Linked DNA regions of Homo sapiens: all the other regions are linked to region 4. The links come from fine-mapping of genetic effects on gene expression. A gene starts in region 4. Each other region holds a variant in brackets. All regions are shown on one strand. Distances are between the middles of the regions. Region 1 overlaps SPTBN5 (spectrin beta, non-erythrocytic 5). Region 2 overlaps SPTBN5 (spectrin beta, non-erythrocytic 5). Region 3 overlaps INO80 (INO80 complex ATPase subunit). Region 4 holds the start of EHD4 (EH domain containing 4).

Evidence for each region. PIP is the estimated chance that this variant, and not a neighbour inherited with it, causes the effect. A credible set is the group of variants that fine-mapping cannot tell apart.
Region 1: its variant is the best candidate, but not a certain one, in a credible set for the expression of EHD4 in whole blood (INTERVAL, PIP 0.75).
Region 2: its variant is the best candidate, but not a certain one, in a credible set for the expression of EHD4 in cerebellar hemisphere (GTEx, PIP 0.52).
Region 3: its variant is the best candidate, but not a certain one, in a credible set for the expression of EHD4 in whole blood (INTERVAL, PIP 0.66).

The regions. Positions count from the first base shown.
Region 1 is chr15:41,873,075-41,875,816 of GRCh38, reverse strand. SPTBN5 (spectrin beta, non-erythrocytic 5) reads left to right here. Exons shown (of 68, transcript NM_016642.4): 22 at 195-359; 23 at 761-975; 24 at 1,339-1,525; 25 at 1,772-1,972; 26 at 2,209-2,325. Among named protein-coding and RNA genes, the nearest start is that of MIR4310, 7.9 kb to the right of the region's middle. The variant C/T (reference allele first, on the strand shown) is at 1,540.
Region 2 is chr15:41,888,615-41,891,356 of GRCh38, reverse strand. SPTBN5 (spectrin beta, non-erythrocytic 5) reads left to right here. Exons shown (of 68, transcript NM_016642.4): 4 at 1,152-1,268. Among named protein-coding and RNA genes, the nearest start is that of SPTBN5, 4.1 kb to the left of the region's middle. RefSeq lists an enhancer at 1-588. The variant A/G (reference allele first, on the strand shown) is at 1,113.
Region 3 is chr15:41,076,805-41,079,304 of GRCh38, reverse strand. All of the region lies in intron 9 of INO80 (INO80 complex ATPase subunit), which reads left to right. Among named protein-coding and RNA genes, the nearest start is that of INO80, 38 kb to the left of the region's middle. The variant G/A (reference allele first, on the strand shown) is at 944.
Region 4 is chr15:41,971,153-41,973,894 of GRCh38, reverse strand. It overlaps EHD4 (EH domain containing 4), which reads left to right and starts at 1,338. Exons shown (of 6, transcript NM_139265.4): 1 at 1,338-1,636. The coding sequence starts at 1,401. PLA2G4E-AS1 (PLA2G4E antisense RNA 1) reads right to left here and starts at 1,132. Exons shown (of 4, transcript NR_120334.1): 1 at 897-1,132; 2 at 1-91. RefSeq lists silencers at 1,287-1,416, 1,457-1,526, 1,627-1,896.

The DNA.
Region 1 (2,742 bases), 98 kb after region 4:
CTATTTGCAGGGGTCAGAGGAAAGCCCCCCTACCTGCAGTTTTGGGGCCACATGAACTGCTTTCTTCCAGGCAGCCCGTGGAGTGCAGCTGTGGTCACCCCCTCACCTCCACTGCCACCCAGGTCCAGCCTGCTGCGGCCACTGGTGGTACCAGCAGCTCAGCCAAACTCCCTGGGCCTTTATCTCCACTCCAGGTTGGGAGAGAGCTGTTGAGTAGGAGGCCCTGTGGCCAGGAGGACATACAGACCAGGCTTCAAGGCCTGAGAAGCAAGTGGGAAGCTTTGAACCGCAAGATGACTGAGCGTGGGGACGAGCTCCAGCAGGCTGGACAGCAGGAGCAACTCCTGAGGCAGCTGCAGGTCCACTGGGAAGAGGGACAGGGCACAAGAGGGAGACGGAGGCCTGGCTGGGCTGGACAGAACGGGGAGGGAGAAGTCTGGGTGTTCTGCTGACCCTGGCTCTGCAGCCTCTGGAGGCTTCTGGCCTAGGACAAGCTGAGCGTGGCTTTCCGCTCAGTCGGCCAATGCAGGATTCTCTCCTGTGTGCCCAGCGGGTGGTCAGCACCACTTGAGTCCCCCAGGGAAGAAGAAGCGTGAGGGAACAGGGGAAGATTGGGCACTTCTGGCCGAGGGTTGGCAGTGGTGGGGACAGAGCTCCCTGGTGAATCTGGTCCTAAAAGTCCAACAGTCCCAGAGCCCGGGAAGGCCACTTGCTGTGCTGTACACAGAGAACCTAATGCAGCTCCATGCGTCCCTCCCAGGATGCAAAGGAGCAGCTGGAGCAGCTCGAAGGGGCCCTACAGAGCTCGGAAACAGGGCAGGACCTGCGCTCCAGCCAGAGGCTGCAGAAACGGCACCAACAGCTGGAGAGTGAGAGCCGGACCCTGGCTGCCAAGATGGCTGCCCTCGCCTCCATGGCCCATGGCATGGCCGCCTCCCCGGCCATCCTGGAAGAGACCCAGAAGCACCTCCGGAGGTGGGGTCTGTCCTCCCACCCACCTGTGTGTCACTCCTCCATGTGAATTTAAGGTCCCACAAGATGGCACCCACAGGACCGGGGTGTCCAGACCTCCTCCCTTATGAGTAGAGTCATTCTGGGATGGGAGGGTCGGAGACCCCATTATGCTTCCTTAGCAGGACCCCCACAGTGCAGTCACGCGAGTCATCTAGGCCATGAGGTGGGGCCCTGGCGCCCTTCCACTGCCTCCCTTTGTCAGATGAGGCTTTGCTCTATTCCCTGGTCTTGTTCTTCACGGGCCCTGGCTTGGCCAAGGAAAGAACCAGGAGCCTTGTGCTCACTCTGTTCCCAACCTCTCCAATCTCTTCCTCCTCCTCCTAGGCTGGAGCTTCTGCAGGGGCATCTGGCCATCCGGGGCCTGCAGCTGCAGGCCTCAGTGGAGCTGCACCAGTTCTGCCACCTGAGCAACATGGAGCTCTCTTGGGTAGCCGAGCACATGCCCCATGGCAGCCCCACCAGCTATACCGAGTGCTTGAATGGTGCCCAGAGCCTTCACCGCAAGCACAAGGTAATAGCCCTCTT[C/T]TTCCTACAGGATTACCGACATCCGCTTCCCAGACCTTAGAAACCCTCTGCCCCTACTCAGGTGTCCTGGCCTCTAAGCCCTCACCCCTGGGTATCCCAATTTCCAAATCTCTGCCCCAGCTATTTTGACCCTGGGGGTCTTGCCATGATTGGGGCCTGGAGCCACATCCATGGCTCTGCTCCGGACGCCCCTGGGTTAAGAGCAGCAGCCTCTCAAGCCACTCTGTGGCAGGAGCTCCAGGTGGAGGTAAAAGCTCACCAGGGGCAGGTGCAACGGGTGCTGAGTTCTGGGCGGAGCCTGGCAGCCTCAGGGCACCCCCAAGCCCAACACATCGTGGAGCAGTGCCAGGAGCTGGAAGGCCACTGGGCAGAGCTGGAGAGGGCATGTGAAGCGCGGGCCCAGTGTCTGCAGCAGGCTGTCACTTTCCAGCAGGTAGGATGCAGAGAGGTGGGGTTGGGGGAAGAGGCAGAAGTCAGGGCTCCTTGAGGGGCCACCTGTGGGACTCTCAGGGAGGCGGATCAGTGGTGGGGGCTCTGGGCTGGGAGCTGATGGGTGCCCCTATGGGCACAGAAGCCCCTTTGATGCTGGAGAGCAGGGGCAGATGTCTCCAGGGCTGACGGAGGGTCCTGTCTGAGATCCTCCAGGTGAGTTGGCCCCACTCTTGGCAGTACTTTCTGGATGTGTCAGAGCTGGAGGGCTGGGTGGAGGAGAAGCGGCCGCTGGTGAGCAGTCGGGACTATGGCAGAGACGAGGCAGCCACCCTCAGGCTCATTAACAAGCACCAGGTACCACGTCCTGAGCCTCCCCTGCAGTGTGGTCTGGGTGATGATGGACCACGGGGAGAGGGCTGTCACCCTCCCTCTCTCAGAGGCACGGAGCCCTGCTCTTGCTTCCTGGAGACACAGACAGCCCCATCCCCACTTCCCACCCAGATCCCACAGTGCCCCTTCTTCCAAGGCAACCTGGGCACTGTGATGTACACGCTTTCTCCCTTCATCTTCTTACGAGTCTTGCCTCTCCCTGTGGCCTTGGGGTTTCTCCGCCTCCTCTTGCTTCCTCTCTACCCCACCCCTGGCACCTTTCTCCTCTGTCAAGGTCACCTGCCCAGCCCGCTCCACATCTCCCACAGGTGTCTTCCTCCCAGGCTTTACCTGTCATCCTTTGAGTTAACCAAATGCCCTTCATGAAGCCGACCTCCTCCC
Region 2 (2,742 bases), 83 kb after region 4:
CCAAAGTTTACCTAGGGGGACACCCAGGATTGCAGCTCCTCCCACAGGGCTAGTAGTGGCCGGCTGAAGCCAGTTGCCCTTCAGGTCTTATGGAAAGTCTCACTCCTTTTCTTTCTCCATTCAGTACTTACTGATCGATTGCCTGCTGTGTGCCACTCCCCTAGGATACACCAGAAAACAAAGCCAAGATCCTCACTTGAGCAGGGCAAGGGGATCGAGAGTGTGTATTTGGGTGGGAGAAATAGTCCTTAAGTTTCTGTGTTAAATAAAGTGGTCAGGCTAGGCAACATCTGAGTGAAGAGTTAAAGGCAGGGAGGTGAATAGCCATGCAGATACCTGGGAGAATACTTTCAGACAGCAGGCACGGCCCTGCAAAGGCCTGAAGTCCTGTGCTTAGAATCCCATGGAACTATAAGAATCCCATGGGCCTTGGAGCTATGTGATTCCACAGGGTGGAAGATGGAGCCACAGGGGGCTGGGGGCCAGATCCTGCAGGGCTTCTCCCCTTGACTCACCCATCCTCCCTGTCCAAATGGCAGGATGTAGGGCAGAGGAGTCTCAACTTTGGTGTACCTAAGAGCCACCCAAGGTGTTGTTCAAGTGCAAATTCCCAGGCTCTGGCCCAAGACAGTCTGACTGGGTGGAGCCTGGGAGTCTGGATTTATAGCTGGCCCTGTTGGAGCCGGAACAGAAGAAGAGGGCTGAGATTTGGGTGTGAGCCCAGGGACCCAGCCACCCCCTGAAGATCCCAGGACACCCTGGGAGATGGAGGCAGACAGTTGCTATTGTCTGTTGGGCTCACACATTGACTGTTATGACCCCTCATTTCCAAACCCTGCAGCTGAACCACTGATCTTGGCCCAGGTCTACCTGTAGCCCACACACAGGGAGTCCTCCTGCTCTGAGGGCCCAGCCCAGTTCACCAGGTTGGGGCTTCACCCAGGTGGGCTTGAGGCCATGGCTCCAACCAGGCAGGAAGCCTTTGCTTTCCTGGACTTATCCCCTGCCTGCTTCTCCCTGAGGGAACTCCCAGCTGGGGCAGGATAGATTCCAGGATGCTCCCATCCCGCAGCTGGCCCCCTAAGCTTTTGGTGACTGAGTCCTCTCTGGAC[A/G]TGGGCTTCATGGCTTAGCCCATCCAACTGTGCCCACAGGTGCCAGTACCACTCATCGGGCCAGAGAACATCGTGGACGGAGACCAGACACTCATCCTGGGACTCATCTGGGTCATCATTCTGCGTTTCCAGATCTCCCACATCTCCTTGGACAAGGTATGGCTCAGTCCCCAGTACCCAGCACCTGGTGACCCAGCCCAGCCCTGGCCTCACCTCAGACCCCTGGGGATTCATAAGTTCCACACAACTTTTATGATCCCCATAGGAGATCCTGGAAACTGCAAAGTCCATATTCACTCTCCAACCATGGGTGAAGAACCCAGGATACCAGAGATATTGTAACATTGTAATATGCTAAAGTGAGGGCCAGGGCCATGGGCTTCAAACCAGGTCTGGGCAAGTCATTCACTAGTGGGGGGTTCAGGGTCACTGCCCAGCACCCACTTTCACCCCTGTGTGGTGCTCCCCACTTGGCACTGAGGCTCTGTAACTTCCATTACACCACAATGTACTGTTGGGAAAAATGAAATGTGTGGAGGGAGTCCCAGCTCTGGAGGTTTACAAAGTCCCTGGCACCCTACACACCAAAGATACAGCATTTCTTTCATGGTCCCCAGCTTCCTTCATTCCACCTCTTTCCCCCACACTGGATCAGAAAGACTATAAACTCTTTGTGGCACATGCCTGTAGTCCCAGCTCTCGGGAGGGCTCAGGTGGGAAGCTAACCTGAGCCCAGGATGCTGAGGGTGTGATGAGCCGAGATCACACCACTACACTCCAGCCTGGGTCACAGAGTGAGACCGTGTCTCAAAAAAAAAAGAAAGAGTCCTTATAGTTATACTTTTTCATAGTTTCATGATTTCCAAAATGCCACCTAAAACTCAATTCTAGTAGGTAAGGAAAGCCAACCTGGAGAATGAAACCCTCATGAAAAGAAGCCAGAGATCTGGCAGAAGTCCAGGATGGCCTGGAAACTCAGGGCCTGAGCCCCAGGAGAGCAGGGGTCTTGTGTGTCTGCAGGCTGAGCATCTATTTGAAGGCTGAAGGGACGGATGAATTTCTAACTGACCTCAAGCCCTTTCAGGAAGCCATACTCACCTCCTCAGGCCCCTGGCCAGTTTCAGGTGTCCCCTGCAGCCCAGGCCCTTGGGAGCAGCAGGTGGGCATCCTCCCTGACCAGCACCGTCTCTGTCTGTCTGCAGCCCCCTCCAGCCCTGCTCCCTGCTGACTCAGATATGTTTGGGCTCAGGCTAGCCCCGATCCCTCACAAGCCATCCCAGCATTTTCCTTAGTTCCGTCTGCCAGCCTGGCCCCACCATGCAGGGTACTGGGGCCTGACCTCGCTGGGGCCCAGGGCCTCGAGACTCCACTCCCCCTCATGTGGGCACCATGCACGTCCTTCCTACCCAAGCTCTGGGGCCCAGAGGGCAGGGGAAGTGCAGCCTGCTGAGCCTTGATATTTTGAGTTTATAAACAGGAAGTGAGGCTGGGCATGGTGGCTAACACCTGTAATTCCAGCACTTTGGGAGGCCAAGGCAGGCAGATTATTTAAAGTCAGGAGTTTGAGACCAGCCTAGCCAACATAGTGAAACCCCGTTCCAACTAAAATACAAAAAATTAGCTGGGCATA
Region 3 (2,500 bases), 890 kb after region 4:
TTTAATTCATCTTGGTTTGTTTGTAGGTGCTGACTGCAGTTTTGCTTTTTTTGGACAGTAAGAAATAGATGCCAAATTCAGGGCCAGATAGGGACAGTGGACAATGAGCCCAGTTTTCTAAGACTTACCCTTCACCTACTGTACTGTTTTATTTATTTTTTTGTTTTGAGATGAAGTTTCACTCTTGTCGCCCAGGCTGGAGTGCAGTGGCGTAATCTCGGCTCTGCAACCTTTGCCTCCCACATTCAAGCAATTCTGCCTCAGCTTCCTGAGTAGCTGGGACTATAGGCACCCACCACCATGCCTGGCTAATTTTTTGTATTTTTAGTAGAGACAGGGTTTCACTATGTTGGCCAGGCTGGTTTTGAATTCCTGAGCTCAGATGATACGCCTGCCTCGGCCTCCCAAAGTGCTGAGATTACAGGCGTGAGCCACCATGCCCAGCCTACTTTACTGTTTTAACTTGCAGCCAGTACTGTTGGTAAACCTGATGCCAGCTGATGTAGGCTGTGTATATTGCTGAGGGAAGCAAGAGGAGAGAGTAAGAAGGCAAATCATTGTATTGCCATTGATAAACCAGCTGAGATGAATGGAAGGAGAGTTGAGATTTGAAGAAAGAAGGGAATTAGTGGTTTGGATGATGTTTTCTTTCAGGTATATGTAGTAACTCATGTCAAAGTGGAGCTTTGGAGCCTTTTCTGAGCTCTTGATCTTCCCTTATTTTATCATGACTTCGAGAATGAAGATGGATTTTGCTCAGTTCTCTTAAGTCTCCTGGTTAATTCGTATATTTGCATGCAAGGTAATCATAATTATCAAGTTAGTAAACATTTGATGCTTTTGGGAATTCTTAACTCAGAGAATTTAAAGTCATTTCAGAGTTAGCCACAGATCTTGAAGTTTTGCAGGCAACTTGGCCTATATTCTAGATTTCTGAGACCTA[G/A]ATTCTTAGTTATGTTGATAGCTAACTGATGGTTATGCTGACTTATGCATTTTTCTTTGAACTTCTGAAATAAAATTTTGACATATCCTTTCTGTTTTCTTAATCTACTTCGTTCATTTAATCATATGGTAGTTAACTTCTTTAGGGTTAAAGATATTATTCTTGGCCGGGCGCGGTGGCTCACGTCTGTAATCTCAGCACTTTGGGAGGCCGAGGTGGGTGGATCACAAGGTCAGGAGTTCAAGACCAGCTTGGCCAACATGGTGAAACCCTGTCTCTACTAAAAATACAAAAATTAGCCGGGCATGGTGGCGGCCGCCTGTAATCTCAGCTGCTTGGGAGGCTGAGGCAGAGAATTGCTTGAACCCGGGAGGTGGAGGTTGCAGTGAGCTGAGATCGTGCCACTACACTCCAGCCTGGGTGACAGAGGAAGAATCCATCTCAAAAAAAAAAAAAAAGATGTTATTCTTTTTCTTAATTGTTTTACTTTAGAAAGTTTTCCTTAGGCTGAGTGTATTGGCTCATGCCCATAATCCTAGCAGAAAGGCAGAGACGGGAGGATCGCTGGAATCTAGGAGTTCAAGACCAGTGTGGGCAACATAGTGATACTTCATATCTATAAACAGTAGAAAAATTAGACAGGTGTAGTGGCACATGCCTATAGTCCCAGTTACTTTGGAGGCTGAGGTGGGAGTATTGCTTGAGCCTGGGATGTTGAGGCTGCAGTGAGCTGTGTTCTTGTTACTGCCTCCAGCCTGGGTGACAGAGTAAGATACCATCTCTTCAGAAAAAAACAAAGATTTTCTTGATAGCACTTTAGGTTTGAAACATGAACATTCATGAAGACAAAAACTTAATTTTCTCTCACTCTCTTTCTCAAGTTTTCTTCTATTTTGGATCTGGCTCAAGTGCTATAAAGCTTTAAAGAGACAGGATAGTTTTACGTAGGTTACTGCTTTATAAAATATACTTTCAGCCTTTTGGGTTTTTTTTTTTTTTTTTGCTGTATTCCCTATTGTATTGTTTTTCTTTTGGGAGAGTGGATCAAGGATAAATCAAGTATATTTTATGAATTTTGTTATGAAATAATTCAAAATAATGACTCTTGGACCAATAATGCTCTTTTTTGGAAAAAAAAAAAAATAAAGCAAACAAGGCTGGGCGCGGTGGCTCACGCTTGTAATCCCAGCACTTTGGGAGGCCGAGGTGGGCGGATCAAGAGATCGGGAGATCGAGACCATCCTGGCTAACACGGTGAAACCCCGTCTTTACTAAAAATACAAAAAATTAGCTGGGTGTGGTGGCATACACCTGTAGTCCTAGCTACTCGGGAGGCTGAGACAGCAGAATCGCTTGAACCGGGGAGATGGAGGTTGCAGTGAGCCGAGATTGCACCACTGCACTCCAGCCAGGGTGAGAGAGCGAGACTCCATCTCAAAAAAAGAAAAAGAAAACAAAATAATGACTCTTTAATATGCTACTTATACTGTGTTCTGTGTTCCATATAATTTGGTATTTTGGATTATGTTTTCATTTTATTGTTTATCTTAGGAATGA
Region 4 (2,742 bases):
TTAGGCCACATCAGAGTCACCTAGGGCATCTGTTGAGCTCCATCTCTCCTCAATATTTTAACTCAGTAGGTCTGGACTGAAGACCAGGAATCTGCATTTTAACAAGCATCCCAGCTCATAAATGCATATATGCAGGTGGCCCCATGGATCACACTTGAGAAATGCTCTAAAACAACTAAGAAATATTCCTAAGCTACAATCAAGGACACAAAAGGTGATTATTTCCCCCAATCTCAACTTAGATAAGTGAGTATCCTTTTAACCTAGAAAAGAAACAGGCCAGGGGCGGTGGCTCACGCCTATAATCCCAATACTTTGGGAGGCCAAGGCAGGCGGATCATCTGAGGTCAGGAGTTCAAGACCAGCCTTACCAATATGGTGAAACCCCATCTCTACTAAAAATACAAAAATTAGCTGGGCATGGTGGTGAGCGCCTGTAGTCCCAGCTACTCAGGAGGCTGAGACAGGAAAATTGCTTGAACCCGGGAAGCGGAGGTTGCAGTGAGCCGAGATCGTGCCACTGCACTCCAGCCTGGGCGACAGAGCGAGACTCCGTCTCAGAAAACAACAACAACAACAAAAAACAGCTAGGAGGTGACAATGACTCACATGTCAATATGTGGAAATAAAGTTGTAATAATGAGGATAATGTAATAATGAGAGTAATGACTAAATTTTCGGCTTTACAGAAAAACACATAAAGAAAACTAAGGGGAAAAAGCCTTTAGCTGATCCAGAATTTAGTGAGGGCAATGTGGAGAAGTAGGAGAAACGGCTACTCAAATAGATTCCAGTCCACTTCCCCTCAAGATTGTGTCAATTATGCCCGTGAGCCTGGGTCTCTTGGCCTGTAAAACGGAGTCATAACCACCCGCCCCCGGGAAGACAGAACCTGCCTGTCCACTTTCTGAACTTTTCATCCCCAGTATCGACGTCCAGAGGCCTGAATGAGTAAACGTTCCAGGAGATGGAGCAGCCTCCGGAGGCTCGCTTTGGGCAGCTCAGATTTACCCGGAAGCCGATGCCACCTGGCCAGAGGTGAGGCACCGGCAACCAGAAGGGGGCCCTGAGCATGACCGGTCAGTGCCACCCGGCCGGGAAGACACCATCTCCCCGCCCAGTCCTCTAGAATGACTCCGTCATCAATAATTCATTAAGAACCTCCTCTCAATTGGCTGACGCCTTCAGCCCTCTCTGGCAGAGATCCAATCAGGAAGGACCTGAGAGAGCTCGTCTGAATAGTGGGCGAGCGCGCGTGACGTAGCGGCCGAAGACTGGCTGTGGCAGCACAAGGCGGGGCCCTCCTCGGGCGGCGGCCAGCGCGGCCGGGGCGGCTCAGTGCGAGCCGGGGAGAGTCGAACCCGGAGCAGGGTCCCATCCGAGCGTGGACTGGCGGCAGGATGTTCAGCTGGATGGGGCGGCAGGCGGGCGGGCGCGAACGCGCTGGCGGCGCGGACGCGGTGCAGACGGTGACGGGCGGGCTGCGCTCGCTCTACCTGCGCAAGGTGCTGCCGCTGGAGGAGGCGTACCGCTTCCACGAGTTCCACTCGCCTGCGCTGGAGGACGCCGACTTCGAGAACAAGCCCATGATCCTGCTGGTGGGCCAGTACAGCACCGGCAAGACCACCTTCATCAGGTACCGTCACCGCCCCTCGCCCGGCTCCCGCCCCGCTCCGCCCTCCCCACGTGTGCGCCGCAGTCGGCCGCCTCCCGCCGCTGCCCCTCCCGGCCGGCGCGACCTCGGGGACCCCTCCCGGAGCTCGGCGCCCGGTGCCCTCGGCCCCGCCCCGGCTGGCCAGCCCCGCGCGCTGGAGGGTCCCGCGAACCCGCGCCCTGCGCACTCCGAGCCCTCCTTCCTTGCGGTTCGGAAGGCGTTGCTCCCGCTGGCCTCGTCCGGTCGCCCTGGCGGGAGGGTCCAAGGGAGAGAGGGGGCGCGAGCCATAATCAGCATATTCTTGACGAGGGAGTGATGCCTAGGGATGGAAATGGGGGGAGAGGCGTAGGGTATCCGAATGGGACAGAGTCCTAGTTGGAGAGTTTGTTTAACTATTCATTTGTTCAACTATTTCTTGAACAAATGAATGGCAGCAGGAGAGCGTATCGCCCAGGCCCCCTTCCCTTGAGGTCTTTACGTGCCACCCCACAGTGTTGTGGGGAGGGGATAAAGAGGCCGCCTACGTTCAGTTCATGCACCGCCTTTAGCCGCCCGTAGGAAGTGAGCTGCGTGTAGCAGCCGCACCAGCCTGTGGAACTAAGGGGGAGTGTCATATTACTATTTGTTAGTTTCCATTTCTTAGGTGGGTCATTCCCTCCTCGCTTACCCTTGACAACTGAAAATATTTGTCATGCTTACCGTGTTTCTGAAAGCACACAATCACTGTGCATACCCTGTGGTTCAAATCATATAGTTTCAAAAGAAGTGACTTTTGCTGGGAAATTATTTAGACAGAAACAGATTGCTTTGTTGATCACCTGTTTTATTTCTAAAGCAGCCAGCATATTTAGGCTCACTGTTTTTGGTAAGAAGAACTTATTTTTCTGACTTAAGCCGTGTATCAGTTGAAACAAAGTGCTGATCATTTAAGGTTTTGGTCCAGGGTTTTGGAAATTGTAACAATCTCTTCATCATTTGATGTGCAACAGGTGTTGAGAAAACTGCATCTATATTTGGATACATGCCATTTCTGTTAAGTAGCGACCTCTTTTTCTCCACTCCAGTGACCTAAATAGTTCCTACAAATA